Regions from separate parts of the Homo sapiens genome. Here region 1 is linked to region 2. The links come from fine-mapping of genetic effects on gene expression. A gene starts in region 2. The other region holds a variant in brackets. All regions are shown on one strand. Distances are from middle to middle.

Region 1 (12,339 bases), 200 kb after region 2:
AGATCAAGTATGGGAAAATGTCAGTTATCTTTTATTTAAAAATCCTTAGAAAGCAGAGCACGACTTATGAACCTTTGGTAATTGACACTCTAATTAAAGCAATAAAACACACATTGATGAATACATAAAAAAATTTGTAAAACTGCAGAAAACTGCAGAAAGATGAGTTATAAGTGAATATAGTACCATAGAAGTACTCTATTTTTATTCTCTCCCTAAATAAATGTATGTTGTGGTTTAGATATAAATACATCTATATGTTATGAATCCCAAGTAATTATTTCTAGCCCTGAGCACCTTCTCTAACTTTGGATTTACATATAAACTTTGATTGGCCAATATGCAGCTCAAACTGAACAAGGCGGTAACAGGAACCTTTATTTCTCACTCTTTGCTCCTCCCCAGCCCATCCTACCTCACTTTGTTACCATGTTACTAATAACATTCCCATCCATTTAGTTGCTCAGGCAACCTCATAGTCATCTTCAATTTCTCTCTTTTACTCACCACCTCCCACATTCTCCACAAGCGAGAGATGTGGCCCCTCTGTTCAGAACATGCCCCTAACTTATCCGCTTTTCTTTTTCTTTCTTTATTTTTTTTTTTAAAGAGATGAGATCTTGCTATGTTTCCCAGGCTGGTCTCAAACTCCTGGGCTCAAGCAATCCTCCCACTTCAGCCTCCCAGAGTACTAGGATTACAGGCATGAGCCACCATGCTAGCCAATCCACTTTTCTTTATCTCCCTGACTACCACCTTGGTCCATCCCGTAAGCATGTCACACCTTGAGCACTACAGCAGCCTCCTGTTTGGTGTCTCTGCCTCCAGTTTTGTTCTCAGCTATTAATATTCTTTTACAGTTTATATTTTATACTAAAGTAATATATGGGCATTGTCCGAACATATGAGTTAAAAATAGGATTCCTATGCCTCACCACTTCCCAAAGGAAATTCACAATTCATATTTAAGTTTAGGGCATTAAAAAGCTTATTGTATAATGGACTGGGCCTGGTGGCTCACGCCTGTAATCCCAGCTCTTTGGGAAGCTGAGGCCAGCAGATCACTTGGGGTCAGGAGTTCAAGACCAGCCTGGCTAACATGGTGAAACCCCATCTCTACTAAAAATACAAAAAATTAGCAGGCGTGGTGGCACCTGCCTGTAGTCCCAGCTACTCAGGAGGCTGAGGCAGGAGAATCATTTGAACCTGCAAGGCGGAGGTTTGCAGTATGCTGAGATGGTGCCACCATACTCCAGCCTGGGTGATAGAGCAAGACTGTGTCTCAAAAGAAAAAAAAAAAAAAAAAGCAACCTACTGTATATAGCTTAGAAAGTGAGGCTTGTTGACTGTGGATTTCGCCATTGTATGATCAGAAAGAAATCCCCAGTGTCTGTAACTGTAGGTCTTTTCATTTGGGAAACTCAGGAAGGTAAACTCTCCTATCCTGGTGTAAGATATGAGGTATGAATGCAGCTTTTTTTCCCCCCAGATTGCTATTCAATAGAGATGCTGTTTGTTAAGTATAGTTCACATTTTGCTTATTGGTATAAGATCCCATCTTTATTACTAAATTCTTATTTTGGGGGGAGGGAATCTCTTTCTAGATTGTATATGCTTTTACGTGGGTCTCTGTCTGTTCATGTACCAGTACCATACTGTATTAATTATTAATTCTTGATAGTGTGTTTTATGACCTGGTAGTTACTCTTGATTGCTCTTCTTTTTCAGAGTTTTCCTACCTATTCCTTTTTGTTAATTTTTCCATATGGACTTTGGAAAGATGAAATTTAAAAATTAATTTAGTGAGAATTTACATGTTAATGAAATAGAATTTTCTTATCCAAAAGCATGGTATGACTTTCCATTTGTTCGAGTCTGCTTTTGTGCCCTTCAATGGCGTGTGAAAGTTTTCTGCATATAAGTCTTGCATATTCCTTGTAATGTTCACTCTTAGAAATGTTCTTTTTGGACTTATTTTTGTTTGGTTCCATTCTTCTATTCTGTATATTTAGTCTCCGTGTATCTGAAATAAATTTTATTTCAAGTATATTAATTGTTCTTCCTGCTGCGTAACTTAATTCTCTTATTGTGTGTCGCAGTTTCTTAGTCAACTGCCTTGCATTGTGAGGAATACAACCATAATGTTTGCAAATTGTGGTAGTTTTACCTCTTCCTATTCATTTTTATACTCCTAATTTGTTCCTTTTATCTGACTGTGTTACTGATGCCCCAGTACAACGACAGTCATGTCAGTTAGCGACCTTGCTTTGTCGCTGGCATTTTGGGGGGATGCTGTGAGTGCTCCTTCATTTGGCATGATACTCTTGTTTTGGAGCTGGCATGTGTATATGTGTGTATATGTAACTTTTGTGTTTAATACATAATCTAAAATACAAAATCAATGAGTCAAATATATATACAATATTTTCTTGATGTTGGGGGGCTGAATATTTGTTGTATTAACCGTGTGTCGCTTTTCTTCCTTTTCAGTGGTCTGACAAGCCCTGTGTGCCTCATTTGCTTCAGAAGGACAGTTACTATGTTTATACCCAGCAAGAGCTTAAAGAGAAGCTGTATCAAGAAATCATATCATATTTCGACAAAGGCAAAGTGAGTATTGGATTGTTTTTGTACTAGGGGAAAGAGGAAAATGACCGCAGTATCGCAATACAATTCTGATGCTCACCACTTGGAGTTAGCACTGACTACCCAGGTTCAGGGCACTGTCTCCAACGAGACTGCCCCCGCTTCAGATGCCATCTTCAAATTTGGGGGTCCCCAGTCCATTCACAGTTCTGGGCAACTGGGTATACATCTGGGGGGCTTCCACTGCCCCCTCAGGTTTAATAGTCTGCTAGAACAACCAATAGTACACAGTGAAGTGCTATATTTAACCATTCCAGTTTCATCAGGAAGAATGTAAACTGGGGCCAGCCACATGAAGGGACCCATAGGGAACAGTCTGGGAGAATCTCAAGCGTGGGGCTTCTGTGTCTTCCCCCTGTGAACTCGGGGCACCTTCCCAGCAAATCAGTGTGTTCCTCAATCAGGAAGCTCACCCAAGCCATGGGTGTACAGAGTTTTTATTGGGGTTTCTTTTTTTTTTTTTTGGTAAATATGGGGTCTCACCAGTTGCCCAGGCTGGTCTAGAACCTAGAACTCCTGGGCTCCAGTGATCCTCCTGTATTGGCCTCCCAAAGTGCCAAGACTACAGGCATGAGCCACTGTGGGGTTTCATTATACAGGCAGGATTGAATGAATCGTTAACTACACAATGAACTTGATCTTTAGCCTTCCTTTTGTCCCTGAAGATTGGGCTGATATCGCATGGCTCACAGCCCTAACCTTCTAGTCACATGATTAGTATTTCTGGCATGGCAGCCCCCATCCTGAGACTAGGAGACCACCATGAGTCACCTCATTAGCATAGATTTGGGTATGATCCTGGGGTGGGGGCACCAGGAATAACAAAGACACTCTTATTATTTGAGAAATTCTAAGAAAATTCACCGGAACTCAGGACCAAGACCAGATACATGATTTAATATACAACAATAACTCACAGCTACTGTTTATTCTTCCCTTGTGTATTCTTGAATTCTGAGATTTCAGAGGGGGACAGATTTTGCAAACAATGATTTTAAAAGATTTAATTTTGAAGTGTTTCCCAATGGCTTGTGGGCTCTGCACACATTTCCTCAGAAGCCAGAAACAATGGAACATAGCACCTTGTGAACAGGAATGAAGCAGGAGGTGACCCGATGCTGCAAGTTGAATAGTATCCGTCTAAGAGACAGCTCATGAAATACCAAAGGGGTTAGAAGGCTCAATCTGGGCTGCTAGCCTCAGACACTGAGGACGTGCTTTAGCCTGTAACTTACATGGTTATACATGCTCGGAGGCATTTCCTAAAACTCATCCACTAAGTAGGGAAATCAGTGCCCTGCATTGAAATACAGTTTGCCAAATTCCACACTATCGGGGAAACCCACCCCCAATATTTCAACATAGGTTCTTTCTATTTTCCATAAGTGTTGGCCGGCTGATAAATAAAGAGAAAGAGTACAAAGAGAGGAATTTTACAGCTGGGCTGCCGGGGGCGACATCACATATCGGTAGGACCGTGATGCCCACCTGAGCTGCAAAACCAGCAACTTTTTGTTAAGGATTTCAAAAGGGGAGGGGGTGTACCAACAGGGAGCAGGTCACATACTTCAAGGGGCAAAAAGCAGAGCAAAGATCACATGCTTCTGAGGAAACAGGACAAAGGGCAAAAGGCAGAAACTCCTGAAGAGGGTCTATGTTCAGCGGTGCACGTATAGTCTTGATAAACATCTTAACAGAAAACAAGGTTTGAGAGCAGAGAAGCGGTCTGACCAAAAATTTACCAGAGTGGAATTTCCCAACCCTAGTAAACCTGAGGGTACTGCAGGAGACTGTTTATTCTTCCTTATCTCAACTGCATAGGACAGACATTCCCAGAGTGGCCATTTATAGACCTCCCCCCAAGGAATGCATTCCTTTCCCAGGGTCTTAATATTAATATTCCTTGCTAGGAAAAGAATTTAGTGATATCTCTCCTACTTGTACGTCCATTTATAGGCTCTCTGCAAGAAGAAAAATGTGGCTGTTTTTGCCCGACCCCGCAGGCAGTCAGACCTTATGGTTGTCTTCCCTTGTTCCCAAAAAATCGCTGTTATTCTGTTCTTTTTCAAGGTGCACTGATTTCATATTGTTCAAACGCACATGTTTTACAATCAATTTGTACAGTTAACACAATTATCATAGTGGTCCTGAGGTGACGTACATCCTCAGCTTACAAAGATAACAGGATTAAGAGATTAAAGTAAGACAGGCGTAAGAAATTATAAAAGTATTATTTGGGAACTGATAAATGTCCATGAAATCTTCACAATTTATGTTCCTCTGCCGCAGCTCCAGCCGGTCCCTCCATTCGGGGTCCCTGACTTCCTGCAACACCACACAACAGTACTGTTAGCCTTTTTCCATCTCCACAAACAACATCACTACACC[T/TAC]ACACACACACACACACACACACACCCATACACACACCTGTACACACACATTTCAGAACCAAAGTCCCACAGAAACTTCCCTTCCCCCTCCAACCAGACTTGCATGCTTTCCGAACCTGGGCTGGCAGAGCTTCCTCTCTACTTTGAAGTGCTGTAGGTGCTTGACCTGTTAAACACAGTATTGCTTTTTTGGGCGACACATGGTACTTATTCTTAATGTCCGTGCAAACAGAACTACAGAAGACGCCCCTGGCAAAGCTGCCAATATACACTGTCTTTATGATGTCAGGAAATGAAGGTTTCACTGATCTAAGGGATAAAGCGAGTGAGGAATATCTACCGAAACTCAATCCCCCAGACCACTTGCTCATTCCCAGTGACTCGCCAGTGGCTTTTGCCACTGAATCAATGACTGCCTTGTTCTCCACTTTTAACCTTACTTTCCTTTTTCTGAAGATGTGGGAGAAGGCCATCAAGCTGAGCAAAGAGTTGGCTGAGACTTACGAAAGCAAAGTATTTGACTACGAGGGCCTTGGCAACCTCCTGGTGAGTCTGGGTCAAAATATGTTAGGCCTCTGACAGGGTTGCTAAAATTAGCACTCATGAAAATGTTTCCGTAAGTTGAAAGTCAGGATGAATGGTGTTTTTTTACAATGGAAAAGTCAACTTTGCTTGAAATGAGAATGAAAAAAGATGTAGTCCAAAGGCTCTGATCAATATTTCTGCCAAATATCCTTCAGAGAAGGTTCAGGACATCTCTGGAAGTGGAGTGGGGTTGTCTCGACAGTGTGGTGGAATATTGAGTTTCAGATAGTAGTGACTCGCTTTCCACATCCCTCAGGATCTCTGTCTGCAGCTCTCTCATTCTTCCTGAAGCCATTTTTCTTTCTGTGGGCCCTCCATATTCCCAGCCATCAGTAAAGCAAAACAAAAATGAGTGCCCAGTGTTAGGCAGCCACCATTCTGAAAGCTCAGTGGAGGCAGCCACCATTCCGAATGCCCAGTGGAGGCAGCCACCATTCCGAATGCCCAGTGGAGGCAGCACCATTCCGAATGCCCAGTGGAGGCAGCACCATTCCAAATGCCCAGTGGAGGAGGCAGCCATTCTGAATGCCCAGTGGAAGGCAGCCACCATTCTAAATGCCCCAGCGGTAGGCAGACACCATTCTGAATGCCCAGTGGAAGGCAGCCACCATTCCAAATGCCCAGTGGTAGACAGCCACTCTTCTGAATGCCCAATAGAAGGCAGCCACCATTCTGAATGCCTGATGGTAGGCAGCCACCATTCTGAATGCCCAGTGGTAGGCAACCATAATATTAAATTTAATAATTTCTAGTAGAGGAGTTAGAAAAGATCAGGTCACCCATAGTCATGAAATAATCATTTATTTGAGGAGCTGGGTGTCAAGATCACTTTGTAAAAAGTTTACCAGTGTGCTATTACCAGCCCCTGGCTTCACATGCAAAAAACTGACTTATTAATTTCATCAACTGGGCTGGGCACGGTGGCTCATACCTGTAATCTCAGAACTTTGGGAGGCCAAGGCAGATGGATCACTTGAGCCTAGGACTTCCAGACGAGTCTGAGCAACATAGTAAGACACCATCTCTACAAAAAATATAAAAAATTAGCTGGGTGTGGTGGCACCTTCCTCTAGTCCCAGCTACTTTTGGGAGGCTGAAGTGGGAGGATCACCTGAGCCTGGGAGGTCAAGGCTGCAGTGAACTGTAATCATGCTACTGCACTCCAGCCTGGGCAACAGAATGAGACCCTGTCTCAAAAAAAAAAAAAAATTTCATCAACTGAACTGAGCTGAAATATTAGTAATGTAACATGTTACATACCGGTCTAAGAAAATAGTATTTTGACGAGACCATCACCTAGATAGAAGAGTAATGGCATGCTAACCATTGTAGGGGAGGGGGCTCAGGTCATTGCTCAAAGCTGTCCACGTCTGGCTGGCTATTTTGCTTTCTTTAAGGCTGACCTTGTGAGCCAAAGCTGGAAAGCCCCTCATCTTGTGAAGAATTAAAGATAAAGATGGTAGCAGATACTGAAAAACCGAACATCACCACCACCTTCTGGGCACTTATAATTTACCAGACACTTTCATCCAGACCACCTGCATGAACTACACAGTCCTTCTTTTTAAAAATGTTCTTTATTTTATTATTATTTTTTCAAAACAGGGTCTCACTCTGTCACCCAGGCTGGAGTGCAGTGGTGCAGTCATAGCCCACTGCAACCTTGAACTCCTGGGCTCAAGACATCTTCCTGCCTCAGCTGCTGGCTAATTTTTTAATTTTTTGTAGAGATGGAGTCTCACTATGTTGCCCAGGCTGGTCTCAAACTCCTAGCCTCAAGCAATCCTCCCACCTCTGCCTCCCAATGTGCAAGGATTATAGGCGTGAGCCACTGCGCCTGGCCTTGGAAGGTTCTTTATCTTCTCCCATGGGTGTCTGGTTAAGTGCAGCCGCCTTCTGTGAATCTCAGAATGCACTTTTTAACCTTTTGTAGTCCCTGAGCCCACTTTGAGAAACTGCTGAAAGTTGTGCACTGCCCCGTTACGCAGAAGAATTCCAACGTGCACACACTTCAGCATACACCCTCAGGGAGTCACAGCCTTCCAACGTCCATTCATGGAGCCCAGGTCCAAAACCTGTGATCCGAGAATAGGATAACCCTTTTCTGCCCATAGGGTGTTTTCCAAAGACCTTTCATTGCTCTGGGTTACGTGGGAAACAACAAAACAAAGTCTGACTTTTTTTTTCCCCCAACTGTGTACTTATAACCTCCCCTTGGAATGTCTTGTTTTGTTTTCCAGAAAAAAAGGGCCTCATTTTATGAGAACATCATTAAGGCAATGAGGCCTCAGCCTGAATACTTTGCTGTTGGATACTATGGACAGGGCTTTCCTTCTTTCCTACGGGTAAGAAACCTGATGGTGGTCTCCCAGGCCATTAGGAGGAGGGAAGAGACTCATTTCTTTTCCAGATGGGCAACAGGGTGTTAGCAGCTGCCGACCCGTGTTCTCGCTGTGGGAGGTAGGGGAGGGAAACCACTTCCTGAGCAGCCGGCCTCTTCACCCCACACCCCCGGACACCCGTGGTGTTCTGCAGGTCTTTTGTGAAATGACTTTTCCCAGGTGCAGTGAAAAAGGGAAAAACAGAACCATCCCCCGCACTGGTCAGCTGCTACGGGTCACGCCAGGGAAAAGTGTGGACTGATGTATTTCGTTGTTTACCATGTTTCTAGCCAGAGCTAATTTGAAAATAGGTATCCCAAGAACCAGACTGCAGGAGTATCCCAAAATAAAACATTTTATTATAATAATAATGACAAGGATGGTATTTTTCTTCCATCTCAAAATTGTGTATAATGCGATATTCAATTTATAGTTTAATAAATAAAAATTCTTATCTCTTACGAAAAGTTTCTTTTAGAGCTGAGCTTTGCTTAAACATTTATTATCCATCTGCTTTCTCCTAATTTGAAAACAAGCGATAAAGCAAGCAATTTACATTCCTAACAGTGCCTAATGAGACAGTTTATTCATTCAGTCAGTAAATATTTATTGAACATCTACTGTGTGCCAGGCATAGGGAAGGCATTAGAAAGATCTTGCTGATTACAGTCAAACATAGTCCCTACTCTCATGGATTTTACAACCTAAACTCATGAGGGGAGATTTTAATCACACATGAATGTAAAATTTAATCTGCATGTCGGACGCAGTGGCTCATGCCTGTAATCCCAGCGCTTTGGGAGGCTGAGGCAGGCAGATCACTTGACGTCAGGGGTTCGAGACCAGTGTGGCCAACATGCTGAAACGCTGTCCCTACTAAAAGTACAAAAATTAGCTGGGCGTGGTGGTGCATGCCTGTAATCTCAGCTACTCAGGAGGCTGAGGCAGGGGAATTGCTTGAACCCAGGAGGTGGAGGTTGCATTGAGCCGAGATCACACCACTGCACTCCATCCTAGGTGACAGAGCGAGACTCCATCTCAAAAATAAATAAATAAATAAACTATAACCAAGAAAGATACCCTGTGCTATAAGAATCTGTAACCAGGAAGTATTTACCCAAGTGAAATAGAAACTTACCCTTTTACAAAAAATGTACAGGAATATTTATAGCAGCTTTAATCATAGTCACCAAAGACAGGATCCAATCCACGTGTCCCTGAACTGGTGATGGGATAAACAAACTTCAGTGTATCCACACAACAGAATACTGCAGCAGCCAAAGGCAGTCAGCTCCTGATACACACAACTGCGGGCATGATTCCCACCCACATGCAGCTTGCTAGGTAAAAGAAGTTACACTTAAAAGGCTGCGTACTCTGTGGTTTTATTTATACGAAATTCTTGCCTAGGCAACGCTTCCTATCAGGACAGAAAGTAGATCAGTGGTTGCTGGCCAGGGGGAGGTTGGCTGCAGAAGGGCCTGGGGAAATTTTTGGTGGCAGTGAAACTGTTCTGTATCTTGATTGTGGTCCTGGTTATGTTTGTCAAAACTCACAGAATTTTACACTAAAAGGGGTCCATTTTACTGTATGTAGATTATGTCTTAATATTATTATTTTATTTATTTATTTATTTATTTATTTATTTATTTTTTTTTTTTTTGAGACAGTGTCTCGCTCTGTCACCCAGGATGAAGTGCAGTGGTGGAATCTCGGCTCACTGCAACCTCCGTCTTCTGGGTTGAAGCGATTCTCGTGCCTCAGCCTCCCAAGTAGCAGGGATTACAGGTGTGCACGACCAGGCCCAGCTAATTTTTTGTATTTTAGTAGAGATGGGGTTTCACCATGTTGGCCAGGCTGATCTCGAACTCCTGACCTCAGTTGATCCCCCTGCCTCAGCCTCCCAAAGTTTTGGAATTATAGGCATGAGCCACCGTGCCCAGCCTATGTCTTAATAAAAAAAAGAATCAGGGCCTGGCACAGTGGCTCACACCTGTAATCCCAGCTACTTGGGAAGCTGAGGTAGGAGAATCACTTGAGCTCGGGAGGCAGAAATTGCAATGAGCCGAGATGGTGCCACTGCACTCCAGCCTGGGCGACAGAGCCAGACTCCATCTCAAAATAAAATAAAAAAAATCAGGAAAGACTTTCCAGGGATCCTCTGTTTCAGCTGCAACCTGAAAGGTAAGCTGGGAGTGGAGCAGGTAAAGGGGGTAGGAATAAGCATTGCAGGCAGAGGAAGCATCAGGCAAGAGCAGGGCAGTGCCTTGAAAGGAAGGGCCAGTGCAGCAGGCACAGAGAGAGCTGGGGTGCCAGCGGGGAGGCGGGGAGCCCTGGAAGAGCCTGCAGGGCCTTGGGGTTTCCTGGGGTGTTCTGTCTACATCCTGAGAGCAGTGGGAGCTGCTGCAGACTTTTCGTGTTGGAAAGGTCATCTGGCTTTTGTCTCCATGGTCATCCATGGAGAATGGATGGGAGGTGCTGCAGGTAAACCACTAAGAGACCATTGCAGATGTTCAGAAAAGAGATGACAGGCTAGACTCGGGACGTGGGGGTGGTGGCTTTACAGAGAAGCGGAAATACTAGAGGGGTGGAGATGAGGTCACAGCCATCTGATGATTGATGGGCTGTGTGGGTGAGGAAGTGAGAGTTGTCAAGAATGATTTCTGGGCTTCTGGCCTGCATCATTGGAGGGGGTAGTTGAACCATTTACTGGGACAGGAGGACCGGAAAAGGCCAGAGTCACAGAGGAGAGAATGAATTTATTCCTTGAGTAAATATTTATTAAACTCCTACCATATACTTGGCTCTAATATAGGCATGGGAGCAGAGTCAAAACGAACCAAAATCTTGAAATTATCTAGCTTATGTTCCAGCTTGGAGAGATCAAAAAATGAGATAAATCAATAAACTATTTAGTATGAGAGATGGCCTAGAACACTGCCTCCTACAGTGTAGCTACTCAGTAAGTATCATGGAGAAAAGGACTTAGGGAAGGGGACTAGAGAGGCAGGTGTTGGGGATGGAGTTACAATTTTAAATACAGTAAACAAGAAAGACTTCAGAAAGAAAATGGCATTTTTGCAAAAACCAGAAAAAAAGTTAAAGAATAAGCTATGCAGCTATCAAGAGGTTGAGCAAAGGTCCCAGACCTTGAGAATAGCAGGTCCAAAAGCTATGAGGCTGGAGTAGTTGTGTACAAGAGGGTGTATAGGAGAATGGGGCAGGTGGCTGTTGGTACCAGATAGCAGAGGGCCTCCCAGGGCTTTCTAAAGTGTTTGCAAAGTTTGGTTTTGCACGTACTCAAGGGGAGGTACATTTGGAACATCCAAAAGGCACAAGTCAACCATTAGCTGTATAGATCTGGAACTCAAGTGAAGTTACAGACAGGAGAGAAAAGTTGGTGAGTTACTTGTATGGAGTTAAAATAACCGTGGTTGGGGATGAGGTGGACCAGGCAGAGGAAAGAATAAAGAGTGGAAGGTCTGAGGCCAAGCATGGTGACTCATGCCTGTAATCCCAGCACTGGTAGGCCAAGGCAGGAGTCTTGCTTGAGCCCAGGAGTTTGAGACCAGCAGTTTGAGGCCAGCCTGGGCATCATAGCATGACCCCGTCTCTATAAAAAAATTTTTTAAAAATTAGCCAGGCATGGTAGCATGTGCTATGGTCCTAGCTACTCAGTAGGCTGAGGCAGGAGGATTGCTTGAGTATTGGAATTAGAAGTGACAGTGAGCTGTGATCAAGCCACTGCACTCCAGCCTGGATGACAGAGTGAGACCCTGTCTCAAAAAATAAAATAAAAAATAGAAAGAGTGTAGGGTCTAAATGCATCAGGGTCTAGTGTTAGCTCAGCTTCAATCCAGGTCAACATAAAAGAACAACCCCTGCCATAGCCGTTACATATGCCTGCATGTCCCATGAAATCAGAAATGTGACCACAGAGACAGCAGTGATTCTGTGAAATCAAGAACACCAGACTTTCAAGTCGAAAGCATTCTCGTCTAAATCACCTGCTGAGCGAGTGTGCAATTTTGGTGAAATCACGTAATCACTGAGTCTTGGTTTTCTGATCCGTAATTTAGAAAAATAATGCCTACATCGCAGGAAAGTTTTGAGAATTAAGTTAATAGCATATAGGAGTGCTTTATAAACTGTAAAGTAGTTTAGAGATGTTAACATACCTCAAAGGCATACTGTAGAATATAAAATCCTCAGGAGTGATATAACCTCACTGCCACTCTCTTCTATGGGATATTTCCCTGAATTCAGAATATTTAAAATTACATCATCCTCTCCTTCCAACCCAATGAGATCTCATTATCTCTTTTGTTTCTGTCAGGGG
Region 2 (12,093 bases):
GAGACACTCTTACTCTGTCGCCCAGGCTGGAGTGCAGCGGTACAGTCTCCGCTCACTGCAACCTCCACCTCCCATGTTCAAGCGATTCTCCTGCCTCAGCCTCCCAAGTAGCTGGAACTACAGGCGTGTGCCACCATGCTCTGCTAATTCTTGTCTTTTTAGTAGAGACGAGGTTTCACCATGTTGGCCAGGCTGGTCTCGAACTCCTGACCTCTGGTAATCTTCCCGCCTCAGTCTCCCAAAGTGCTGGGATTACAGGCATGAGCCATTGTGACCAGCCAAGTTTTATATTTATAGTTCTTATCACTGGGAATAGAGTTCAAAGGGCTAGGCCAGTAGACAATTCCCCAACACACGATATTCACTGCTCTCAGAAGTGCCCCCATCCTCTGATTTCTATGGCAACTTTTACTATTGGAGTCCTCCTCTTCCCATGACTTTTTTTCCAAGGGCTTCTCACAAATCCTTATGCAAACAGACTTCCAGTGGGAAAGCACCACACATGCTTCCTTAGTTATGCTGCTCCTTCTGGAGGCCCCCAGCCTTCCCACCCACCTAAAGGGGTGACAGTCATAGTGTAGAGCAGGGATTGGCAAACTAAGGCCCAAGAGCCAACTCTGCCTCACCACCTGCTCCTGCGCAGCCTGCAAGATAAAGATAAGATAAAGATAAGAATTTTTTTTTTTTTTTTTGAGACAGTCTCGCTCTGTCACCAGGCTGGAGTGCAGTGGTGTGACCTCTGCTCACGGCAACCTCTGCCTCCCAGATTCAAGCCATTCTCCTGCCTCAGCCTCCTGAGTAGCTGGGACCACAGGCACATGCCATTACACACAGCTAATTTTTGTATTTTTAGTAGAGACGGGGTTTCACCATATTAGCCAGAATGGTCTCGATCTTCTGACCTCGTGATCCGCCCGCCTCAGCCTCCCAAAGTGCTGGCATTACAGGGGTGAGCCACCACGCCTGGCCAAGATAAGAATGTTTTTTACATTTTTAAATGATAAAGAAAAACATCAAAAGAAGGATAAACAATAATATTTCTTTTCTTTCCTTTCCTTTTCTTTTCTTTCCTTTCCTTTTTTTAAGATAAGGTATCACTCTTATCGCCCAGGCTAGAGTGCAGTGGCACAACAATCGCAGCTCACTACAAGGTCAACCTCCCCAGGCTCAAGTGATCCTTTCACCTCAGCCTCTTGAGTAGCTGGAACAACATGTGTGTGCCAACACACATCTAATTTTTGTGTTTTTTGTAGTGACAGGATTTCTTCATGTTGCCCAGGCTGGTCTTGAACTCCTGGACTTTAGCAATCTGCCCACTTCGGCCATTCAAACTGCTGGGATTACAGGGGTGAGCCACTGCACCTGGCCAGAATAATATTTCATATGCATAAAAATACATGAAATTCAAATTTCAAATCTACTGTTAAAAGAAAGACCATAGCCAAATTAAATTTAACATACTTTAATTGAGCAAAGAACGACTTGAGAATCAGGCAGCCTCCTGAGCCGGGGTAGGCTCAGCAACTCCAGTGCAGCCACGTGGTGGAAGACGATTTATAACAGAAGAAGGAAAGTGATGTACAGAAAACAGAAATGAGGTACAGAAAACGGAAATGGGGTACAGAAACAGGCGGATTGGTTACAGCTCAGCAGCTGGGCGTTTACCTTATTTGAAGACAGTTTTAACAGTTTGCCTCCTCTGATTGGCCAAAACTCAGTGATTGGCACAAGAATAGGTTTTGGTCTGTTTACACTTCCATTGAGATTATAGTTCGCTATGTACAGAGAAACCTTTAGGCTGAACTTAAAATATGTAAGGAGGCAGGTTTAGTCTAAACTTGATCTAACACAACTAATGAAGTTTTACTGGGACACAACCACACTCAATTCATTGTATGTATTGCTCATAGAGGCTTCCCTGCTACAACTGCAGAGTTGAGTGGTTGCAACAAGGCCATATGGCCTGCAAAGCCTGGGAACTATCCATAGTGGGGCCTTTATAGCAAAAGCTTGCAGACCTCTGCTTTAGAGCATGGACCCTGGAGTCAGGCTGTCTGGGTCTGGATTTTATTTTGCCACTAATTAATTATGTAGGTAATTTCTGGACACCTCCTAAGCCACATTTGTGAGGTGGGAATGACCGGAGAGTTATATTTACCTCATTAGGTTGTATGGGGATTAAACAAGGTGATTTGGAGCCAGTACTCATTACTTCATACGCAGTTATTATTGTTACTTTACAGTTGGTGGCTGTGAAAAAATAAAATCGTTCTGGTATTAAATACAAGTTCTGGATTAAATGCTTGTTTTCTTAACTGACCACAAACAGGAAGAAAAATCTGCTGAATATGACAGTCGTCTAAACAAGATAGTCATAGTGTCCGTGTGCCCAAGGAACTGAAGAGTGAAACTTCACTCTTGTCACAAAAAATGATCAGATTTAGGCAAATAACTTCCTACTCTTGCTACATAGCCCAGAGACTTCAGCAATCAAGTATTTTTCTTTATTTTGTTTTGAAGAAGGTTGAATAAAATTTGTCATTTATTCATGTTCTTCTATGGTCATTTTCCCTGTAAATCTATGACTTTCTATAGCTACAATCATTTTGCGGCATAGACAATCTAATTATTTTCATTTATGCCTACATTATACATTTTCCACATTTCTTCTAAGTTTTCATCATCTCTCTTTTTGTTCTTTTTTTTTTTTTTTTTTTTTTTTGGCAGGGGGAACAGGGTCCCCCTGTCACCTAGGCTGGAATGCAATGGTGCCACATCAGCTCACTGTAACCTCCACCTCCTGGGCTCAAGGAATCCTCCTACCTCAGCTTCCTGAGTAGCTGATACTACAGACACACACCACCACACCCTGGTAATTTTTGCATTTTTTGTAGAAACAGGGTTTTGCCGTGTTGCCCAGCCTGGTCTCGAACTCCTGGGCCCAAGTGATCTGCCCGCCTTGGCCTCCCAAAGTGCTGAGATTACAGGCATGAGCCACTGCGTCCAGCCCATCATCTCTTATTTTAAACAGTTTTATGAATATAATTTTTCAATGTATATAGGAATCAAGACATACGGTAAATAAACATAGTTTGTTTTTTTTAAAATCAGGTAGTTTGATTTCATCTCACCTAAATATGGATCTAGTTTTCAAGAAACTAATGCCTTCTTACTGCTCACATCATCCACCTCTCCCAACAGTGGAATCAGCTCATTTAGACACAGCAAAGAACATTCCAGAAACAACACTAGAAAAAAGAATTTTCCCATGTTCATGAAAAGGGTAAATCATAAGTATAAATCTCCTTGTGACAGAGATGAGGAGATAATAGCATTGGAGCCCCGAGCATTATCTTCCCATCCATCAGAGAAGCCGGACCCCCACAGCCACATGGCAGAGCCTGTGCAGACTCAGAGATGCTCACGACCTAAGTCACTTGCAGAGTGGAGAGTGAATAATGATGTTGGAATCCCTGGGGCCTATGAAAAGGTACTTCTGGGACTAGGGTGATTCATGGTTTCCTTTGTCCTGCTAAGCTCATGGGTCCCAGAATTACAATGTATCACCTACTCCTGGCTTACTTAGAACCATCCTTAGGAGCCTGCAAAGCACTGCTTAGAACCAATTACATTATTTGCATTGTTATCATTTTTTTGGTAGTTCCATTAGCCACTGACTCGTATAGGATCACAGAATAATCTTCTTTTATCTAGAGAGAGAGAGAAAAAAGACACTTTAAACGACTCCACAGCATCTCATAGAGAAGCCATCAGACCAGCCTGATTTGGCAAAAACAAGCCTGGTAATCAACAGGGAGGTGAGGCTCTTGCCAGTTCTCTTCACATCCTGTCCATTTATTCTCTAAGGCATTGTAAGGGTTAGTCACAATACTCATGTCAAACTAACCCTCAAAGCCACTTACCCTCATTTCTTTCTCCATGGCTCCTTCAAGCAGAGCCTGTGAGTGTCTGTGCGTGCTTAAGTGTGTTTGTATTTGTGTGGGTTTTGGAGTCTGAAGATCTCTGTGGAATATGCTTAATGTTTCTTCTGAAAAGATATCAGAGGAAAAAAAAAGGGTATTTCTGGGCATCACGCTGTCATTCCAACTGCCTGTCTGGTTAACTGTCTAATTTTAAGCCTCATTCTAATAAAAGACTTTGAAAAGCTCTGCTTTTATGATTTAAAAGGACATTCACACTAGGATTTAGCCATCTGATATAGCAAAGTGAGTGGATTTCAGTTTTCAAAAGGAAATGATAAACATACTGAAAGCTGTAATTAAAATTTTCCATTTTCCTCCAACTCTCTTAAAGCCATTGTCAAATTTGAAATCTCTGGCACCCAAATTCAAACCTCTAGTTTTGGAAGAAGAAGACTTCAATGCAAAAGTGGGATGAGGCAGTTGAAATCGCTTTGGTAGAAACCCAGTTCCACTGGATAAGAGCATTAACATTCTGATGTATGGTACATTTGAAATATACCTTTGGTCAGAGAACAGAGGTCATCCAATTTCCCTAAGCACGGAGAATTCATGTAACTTTGAGAAGCCCTGAGTCCACAACAGGCAAGTCATATAATCCAGTGCAGAGCGCTTTAGCTCCTAAGGGGCCACATGGAGAAGTTGCTGAGGAAGGCGTGAAGAAGTGGGTCCTAAAGAAATATTGAAAGGAAAACTTTGATACAGAGCAACTGGGACAGGAAAGGGTGAAGACAAGATAGATATAAATGGTGACCAAGACAATGGCAACTCTACTCCCTTGCTATTCAAGCCCCAAACCTTAGAGTCACTCTTTTTGTTTTGAATTAATATTTGTTTAGAGACAGGGTCTTGCTATGTTGTCCAAGCTGAAATGCAGTGCCAATTCACAGGTGCCATCCCATTATTGATCAGAAGGGGAGCTCAAGAGAGGGTGCCACCTGGAGCCTGAGGCAGTTCAAATGTGAAGTCCCGGCTACGGGATCTTTGTCAATAATGCAGTCAGTGACAGAGAAAAGACAAGGATGCATCCAGTTGCTTTCTACACAGGGATGCTCTCTGGGCTGCTGGCTGGTTGGAAAAGGGAGGTCTTGGGGTAGATTTCCCCCTGGATATGTGGGCCTGAATTTCTTCAGCTAAGGAGGAGTACCGAAGTTTTGGGATATAGGACTTCCAAATTAGGGCTTTCCAAATAATTGACCCGCTCCATTTCTGACCTGGACCAGTTCACCCCTCCTTAGGCAACCTGGTGGTCGCCTGCTCCCAGGATGTCACTATATTGATGCGGAACTTAGTGCAGACACCTGATCAGCATAGCTCACTGCAGCCTGGAACTCCTGGGCTCAAGCAATCCTCTTGCCTCAGCCTCCCTAGCAGCTGGGACTACAGGCATGTGCGACCTAGCTGGCTTTAGAGTCATTCTTGACCCAGCTTGTATCTCACATGCAGGGACAAGAACCAAGGTGTGTGGGGCCTGAAGGGTGTACGATACGGGTAGGGCTCTTTAAAAAAAAAAAGAAAAATACAAGCATATCTCTTTCTGGGGGAAAACTTTCCAAAAAAGATTGAAGCCTCACAGTAGTAGATCCCCCTGCCGTTCATGTGGCCCTCCTCTTGGTTCTTTTTCATGCTGTGATGCAATCATAGCTCACTGCTAGCCTCGACCTCCTGGGCTCAAGCAATCCTCCCACCTCAGTCTCCTGAGTAGATAGGGCCACAGGCACAGCCACCATGCCCAGGATATATATATAGTAGAGGAGGGTCTCACTATGTTGTCCAGGCTGATTTTGAACTCCTGACCTTAAGCAATCCTCCCACCTCAGCCTCCCAAAATGCTGGGATTACAGGTGTGAGCCACCACATCTGGCCAGGCTCTATTTTCACGTATGTCAAGAACCCAACATCTTTTTCACCTCCATCCTTATCCTCCTGGACCCAACTACCTTCATGTCTTGCCTGAATGACTGAAATAGCCCCCAACATCCATCCATGTGGGCCTCCCTTGCCCCTTTACAATGGATTCATACCACAGCAGGCAAGTTCAATATGTTCCAGGTTGGCTCAAAGCCCTCCAAACCTCGCTTGTAGTAGTAATATATAAAGTCCATATGCCTGCCAGGGTTCTGCTCTATCTGGCATTCCTCTGCCTCTTAGACCAAGTTTCCTCTCACCTGTTACTCAGCTCTCATTACCTAGGATCTCTGGGTGACCTGGGAACCTGCCAAACACGCTTGGTGTCCTTTGCCTTTGCTGTTCCTCTTTTCCAGAATACTTTCTCCCGGAATCTTCACTTCCTTCAGGTCTACACCTCAACCTCAGCTTAGCAGAGCTGCATTCCCAGACCACTCCATAAAAACAGCAGCACCCTACACGCCCTATCCTCCCTGCTTTGGATTTTTCTCTAATGTTTACTCTCGTTTGGTGTACATTTCTTTACTGTCTTACTCTCCCCGTCTAGACTAGAAGCTCTGTGAAGGGACACATTCTACTGTATTCACCGCTGCACCCTCATTCTTAGAGTGATGCCTGGCACTTAACGTGTAGGCATTTAATATGTGTGTGAAGAAGGAAGAAGAAATTACCTAACCTGGGAAATTAGAATCATGATATACTAATGGAGGAAGATAAATTATTTTAGGGAAGATGGTGGAATTCTTTCTGGATGTCAAGTCTAAAGTGACAGAGGAATTTCTTAAATTATTGTTAAACATTGTGAATAAATACCTATTGGTTGATGGAGAAAAAAAAAGCCAGCTCTAGTAGTTACCCACCGTGAATAGGACTTAAAAAAAATTTCAGACCTCGTTTGGTAAAAAACCACCAAAGTTAAAATGCACTAATTCTCCAATGAAACTTTACTATCTTGTTACCTTGTTTGCCTATCTATCTTTACTGTCTTTTTTTTTTTTTTTTTTTTTTAGACGGAGTTTTGCCCTGTTGCCCAGGCTGGAGTGCAGTGGCGCGATCTCGGCTCACTTATAGCCTCTGCCTCCCGGGTTCCAGCGATTCTCCTGCCTCAGCCTCCTGGGTAGCTGGGATTACATGAGCACACCAGCACGTCTGGCTAACTTTTGTATTTTAGTAGAGAAGGGGTTTCACCATGTTGGCCAGGCTGGTCTGGAACTCGTGACCTCAGGTGATCCACCCGCCTCGGCCTCCCAAAGTGCTGAGATTACAGGCATGAGCCACCACGCCTGGCCAACTACCTGTCTTTACTATCTTTACTACATGTTTGTCTTCCTTTCTTTTATATTCCTAAAACGCATGAAAACCTTCACAGGCTGCAAGGAGGATATAATTTCTCTCTAGAGGAATCTTCTTCGAAGGTGAACGTAATTAAGCTGGTCATTTACTCTACTTGCAATGTTACTTCTCGGTACAAGGTAGGGAGAAACCCCTGGATCTTCATTCTCCAAGTCTCTCCAGGAAGAAATGAATTCCAAGAGGGGAGCTCCAGAGAGGGCGCCACCTGGAGCCCAAGGCGGTTCAAATGCGCAGCCCCTTTGGGATCTTCGTCAAGAAAAGGCAGTCGTTGACGGAGAAAAGACGGGGATGCGCCTTGGCCCTTTCTCCACGGGAATGCTCTCTGGGCTGCTGGCTGGTTGGGAAAGGGAGGTCTGGGCATGAGGGTCTAAGTTTCTTCAGCTTAAGGTTGGGGGGTCCCCGGAGTTTGGGGATACAGGACTTCCAAATTAGGGCTTTCTAAACAATTTCCCTGCAGAGGATCCCCTAGCAAACGGTCTGATACTTCTGAGGAGCCCACCTCCCTTGCACCAGCTCTCCGGTGATAAAAGTTCTGCTTTCCAGGCTCTAAGCGGTGGCCCCGGGAGATTCAGTCTGCCCTGAGTCCGGCTTCTCCCGCTCGCGGCGCGGGTTCAAGCTCCAGGGGGTGAAGGCAGAAGTCAACTGCTCATTCATTCAACAAATATTTATTGCGCGCCCGCTTAGTGCCAGGCACCGGAGGTGCCCCGAGCAAGAAGCCGCTCTCGCTGATCCGTTTCCGCTCCCCAAGTGTCCGGCGCGCGCCGTGGGAGCGCAGCCCGCATCCCTCGCCCACCGGCCGCCCGGCCTGGGCGTGCCCGGCTCCTCCAGCGCAGCCCTCTGTCGGGAGCCGGACCCCCGGGACCCAGCCTCCGGGGTATCAGCCGGGTGGGGAGGGCGGGAGAAAGGCAAAGTGCCGCCAGCGTCAAAGTCCCGCCGGCCCAGGAAGCCGCTCCAGGGAAGCGCGCGAGGCGGAGCCGCAGTCGGCCCCCGCCCGGCAGAGCGCAGAGAGCGGCGCGGGCGGGAGAGGCCGGGCGCCCGCGGCTCGGAGGCGGCCCCGGCGGGCGGAGGGTGCGGCCGGCGGGAGGGACTGGGGCGGCGCCAGGAGGGGCGCGCACTGCTGCGCTGCAGCCCGGCCCAGCAGGTGACCGCGGGCGGCGCGGGCACGGGCACGGGCGCGGGCGGCGCGGCGAGGAGGCGGCCCGCGGAGTCCAGCGAAGTTTGGCGGAACATGGCGGAAGCGTCTGGGGCACGCAGGAGCGCGGGGCGGCGGCGGCCGGAGCCCGAGGAGCTGTAGCAGCCTTAGTCGCCGCCGCCGCGGGGCGAGGTCGCCGCCATGGCCCGCTGGATCCCGACCAAGAGGCAGAAGTACGGGGTTGGTGAGTGCGCGCCCCACCTTGTCCCGGCCCGACCCACGCGGCCAAGTTCGCGGACAGCGGCCCTGCCAGGTTTGCGCAGAGCCCGGCGGAGGACCCTGGCCGGGGGCTCGGCCCGGCTGCGCAGCTCTGGGAGCCGGGGACGGTAGGAGTCCTCTCCAGGGAGCGCCGATGGGGAAGTCGCCCAGGGTTTGGGGACTCCGAGTGCTTCCAAGTGCAGCTGAGCTTCGGGACCGTAATCCCGCTCTTGCATCCCAATCTCCGGCACTTCACACCAGGGAAATGTCAACGCGAGGGGGGCGCGCCTGCTGCTCTTTTGGGGCCGCAGCTCTGTGGCTCGCCCCGGTGCGCCCAGCGTGGGTTTCACCTGGGAGTAGGTGACCAGCCCGGGTCGGCACATGGACTGGTGCTCATTGTCCCAGTGCTTTCTGCCCCCCGCTTTCGTAGGTTCTTCTCAGACGCCCCTTAAGTGAGGAGTTGAGGGTGGAAAGCCGCCCTGCCCCCTTTCCTCCAGAGACTGGGATCTTGATGACAGTTGTGAGCTGGATGGAAACTAGAGTCGTGGCGTGGAAGTGATGGAAGGGACAGGAAGTTGTGGCACGGGAAGGGGGTGGCTGGCCCCTGGGGCTGTTTGTGCGCACTCATCCCCTAACGGAGCCTGTCTGGAGAGGGTGTAAGGCTGCCTTCCGGATCCTGAGTTTCATCCTGGAGACGAGAAGAGGACATTTTATTAAGGAAACTGTGCCAGACCCCGTGCTGGGCACTTGGCATTCAGAACAGCGGTGCTGGAGAGCCCCGGGTTGTGCGCAGGGGTTGCTGGTGGTGGTGCTTTGGCTCCGAAACAATAGATGTGCGGGGATTTTGACCCAGGTGGAAAGTCAGGCTCCTTTGGCTTTTTATCAAGGATTGAAGTTATTGAGGGCCTGTGGGAAGACTTCTGCCCTGAACGGGGTGATTACAATGGCAGTTAGACCTGGGGTGATTCCCTACAATAAACACGGCTGAGTGTGTTGCGAATTTTATCACTTCCTCTCAGATCCATTCATTTGGCCTGTTTGTAATTTAGTCTTTGACTTTACTCCCTTACTGAGGTCCTGTTTTTCCTCACCTCACTGGTTAATGAAGTGCAGTCTCAATTAAGAGCTACTCAACGTGTCTAGGGGCTTTTCAACTCTGTAGCCAGGAGTCAGGGTTTTTTGTTGTTGTTTGTTTTGTTTTTTAACAGTCTCATATTTACTATATTATTCTTAGGTTGTGATCCTTTATATATTTATTATTTTTTGTTTTCCCTCAATTCAAAAGACATTTTCTTTTTTGCTCTTAAGTTGCTTTTAGAATCTTAGTCTCTCCCTTAGCTGCATCTCAGAAATGGGTAGAGATGTTGCTTCTGCCTCAGGGCTCTTTTTTTTTTTTTTTTTGGTTTGTTTGTTTTTGAGACGGACTGACGAGGGAGTCTCACTCTGTCGCCCAGGCCGGAGTGCAGTGGCGCAATCTCGGCTCACTGCAAGCTCCACCTCTAGGTTCCAGCAATTCTCCTGTCTCAGCCCCCCTCCCCGAGTAGCTGGGATTACGGGCTTGCATCACTACACCTGACTAATTTTTGTATTTTTAGTAGAAACCAGGTTTCGCCATCTGGGCCAGGCTGGTCTCAAACTCCTGACCTCAGGTGATCCGCCTGCCTCGGCCTCCCAAAGTGTTGGGATTACAGTCATGAGCCACCTCACCTGGCCCCTAGATGAAAGCATATTTACAATGCCCAATCACTACAGAAATGTTATCAACTCTAATTTTATCAGGATTAAAAGCTCTTTTCAAAACTATTCAGTTGAGGGTAATTAATGCAAACATGTTTCAAAAATGTGGTTTTTATTGCCATAGTCCTAGGAGCAAGTATAATTGTTTTTAATATTTTGTTTTTATGTTCTGGAGTCAGTTTACTGTGTCACTTATCAGTCAAGAAAAATATTTGGGCCAGGTGCGATGGCTCACGTCTGTAATCCCAACAATTTGGGTGGCAGAGGCAGGAGGATTGCTTGAGCCCAGGAGTTCAAAACTAGCATAGCAACATGGCAAACGGGTCTTTACAATAAATACGAAAAAAATTTAGCCGGGCATGGTCGCCTGTGCCTGTGGTTCTAGCTACTGAGGAGGCTGAGGTGGGAGGATAGCTTGAGCCTGGGAGGTTGAGGGTGCACCGAGCCCCCATCACGACACTGCACTCCAGCCTGGGTGATACTGTGAGACCCGATCTCAAAAAAAAAACTATATATACATATATATACGTATATATATATATACACACACACACACACGTATACACACACATATATGTATATATGTATATACATATATATGTATATATGCGTATATGTGTGTGTGTGTATATATATATGTATATGGAAATATGGGTGGAAATTGTGTGTGTGTGTGTGTGTGTGTGTGTGTGTGTAAAATATTTGGATTGCATTTCCAGGGCCTAGGTGTTAGGGAAACTGCTCCAGGATATAATTCTGAACACTTATTTCACCAGACATAGATTCTGGTTTGTCTGGGTTTGACAAAAGGACCCACAGTTGGGATAAATTAACTGAAGAGAGAAATCTCCATTGCTTATTGCTAAAACTCATTGTTTTTGTCACCTCCTTGCTTATGTTTATGTCACCTCCCTGCTTGGAAGTCTCTCGTGGTCAACAGGATAAAGTCTGAGCCTCCGTTCCAAGGTTCCTATAATCTGGTTCAGCCTATCTTCAGCATTATCTCTCGAGGCTTCTTTCACTAGCTCTCCAATGCAGACCAACTGCCCTTCCCACTGTTGTGCAACATACCCTGCAGAGTCCCTCCTTTGGGACTTTGCTCCCATTGTGCCTGTCCCTGCCAGGAGTGCCCTCCCAACTCTGCCTCAGACAGCTCACCTTTCCTTGAGGGCTCAAATCCATTCCTACTCCCTTCTTCAAATTTGCTATTTGTCAGACTGTCCCAAACCTCCTTGCTTCTTCCTCGCAGTTCCTGGACTGTGCCATCCTTGGGTTCAGTGAATCAGACCATTGTGGTTTTGTATTCCTAGCACTCAACAGGTGTACCAGGTATTAGTGCATTCAGTTTGCTTGTCCTTGATGTTGGGGTGCCGTTCTAAAGTACACTAACCTAGCTTGTCTGGTAATTGAATGCAGTTTTTTCCTCTTCTTTTTCTTCCCATTAGGCATAACATCTCATTCACCCCAATATGAGTTGAATTTTGTTTGGTTAGATGGAGGAAGGGAGAGCCTCCACTCTGTCTTTATCTCTGCAAGTAAGAGAATGAGATATTCTGCTGAGAAAACAAGGAAGCATGGAGCAGACAGACTTTCTTAAATATAGTTGGGAAAATTGGCTTTCTGGACTTCTCTAAGTGTGTACTGGTCAGATTTGGTTTCTGGATGAAGGAACCGTAGGATAGTCATGTTGAAGCATTTGGATGACTCAGAGCTAGCTATGACTTT

What was found.
Region 1: its variant is fine-mapped to the expression of DOCK5 in whole blood (INTERVAL, PIP 0.91).

What each region holds. Positions count from the first base shown.
Region 1 is chr8:25,374,815-25,387,153 of GRCh38, forward strand. It overlaps DOCK5 (dedicator of cytokinesis 5), which reads left to right. Exons shown (of 52, transcript NM_024940.8): 38 at 2,491-2,610; 39 at 5,491-5,580; 40 at 7,860-7,964. Among named protein-coding and RNA genes, the nearest start is that of MIR6876, 36 kb to the left of the region's middle. The variant T/TAC (reference allele first, on the strand shown) is at 5,035.
Region 2 is chr8:25,176,335-25,188,427 of GRCh38, forward strand. DOCK5 (dedicator of cytokinesis 5) reads left to right here and starts at 8,355. Exons shown (of 52, transcript NM_024940.8): 1 at 8,355-8,617. The coding sequence starts at 8,575. It overlaps LOC124901912 (a long non-coding RNA gene), which reads right to left and starts at 8,043. Exons shown (of 2, transcript XR_007060861.1): 1 at 4,483-8,043; 2 at 1,447-3,710. RefSeq lists silencers at 8,173-8,252, 8,263-8,432, 8,603-8,652.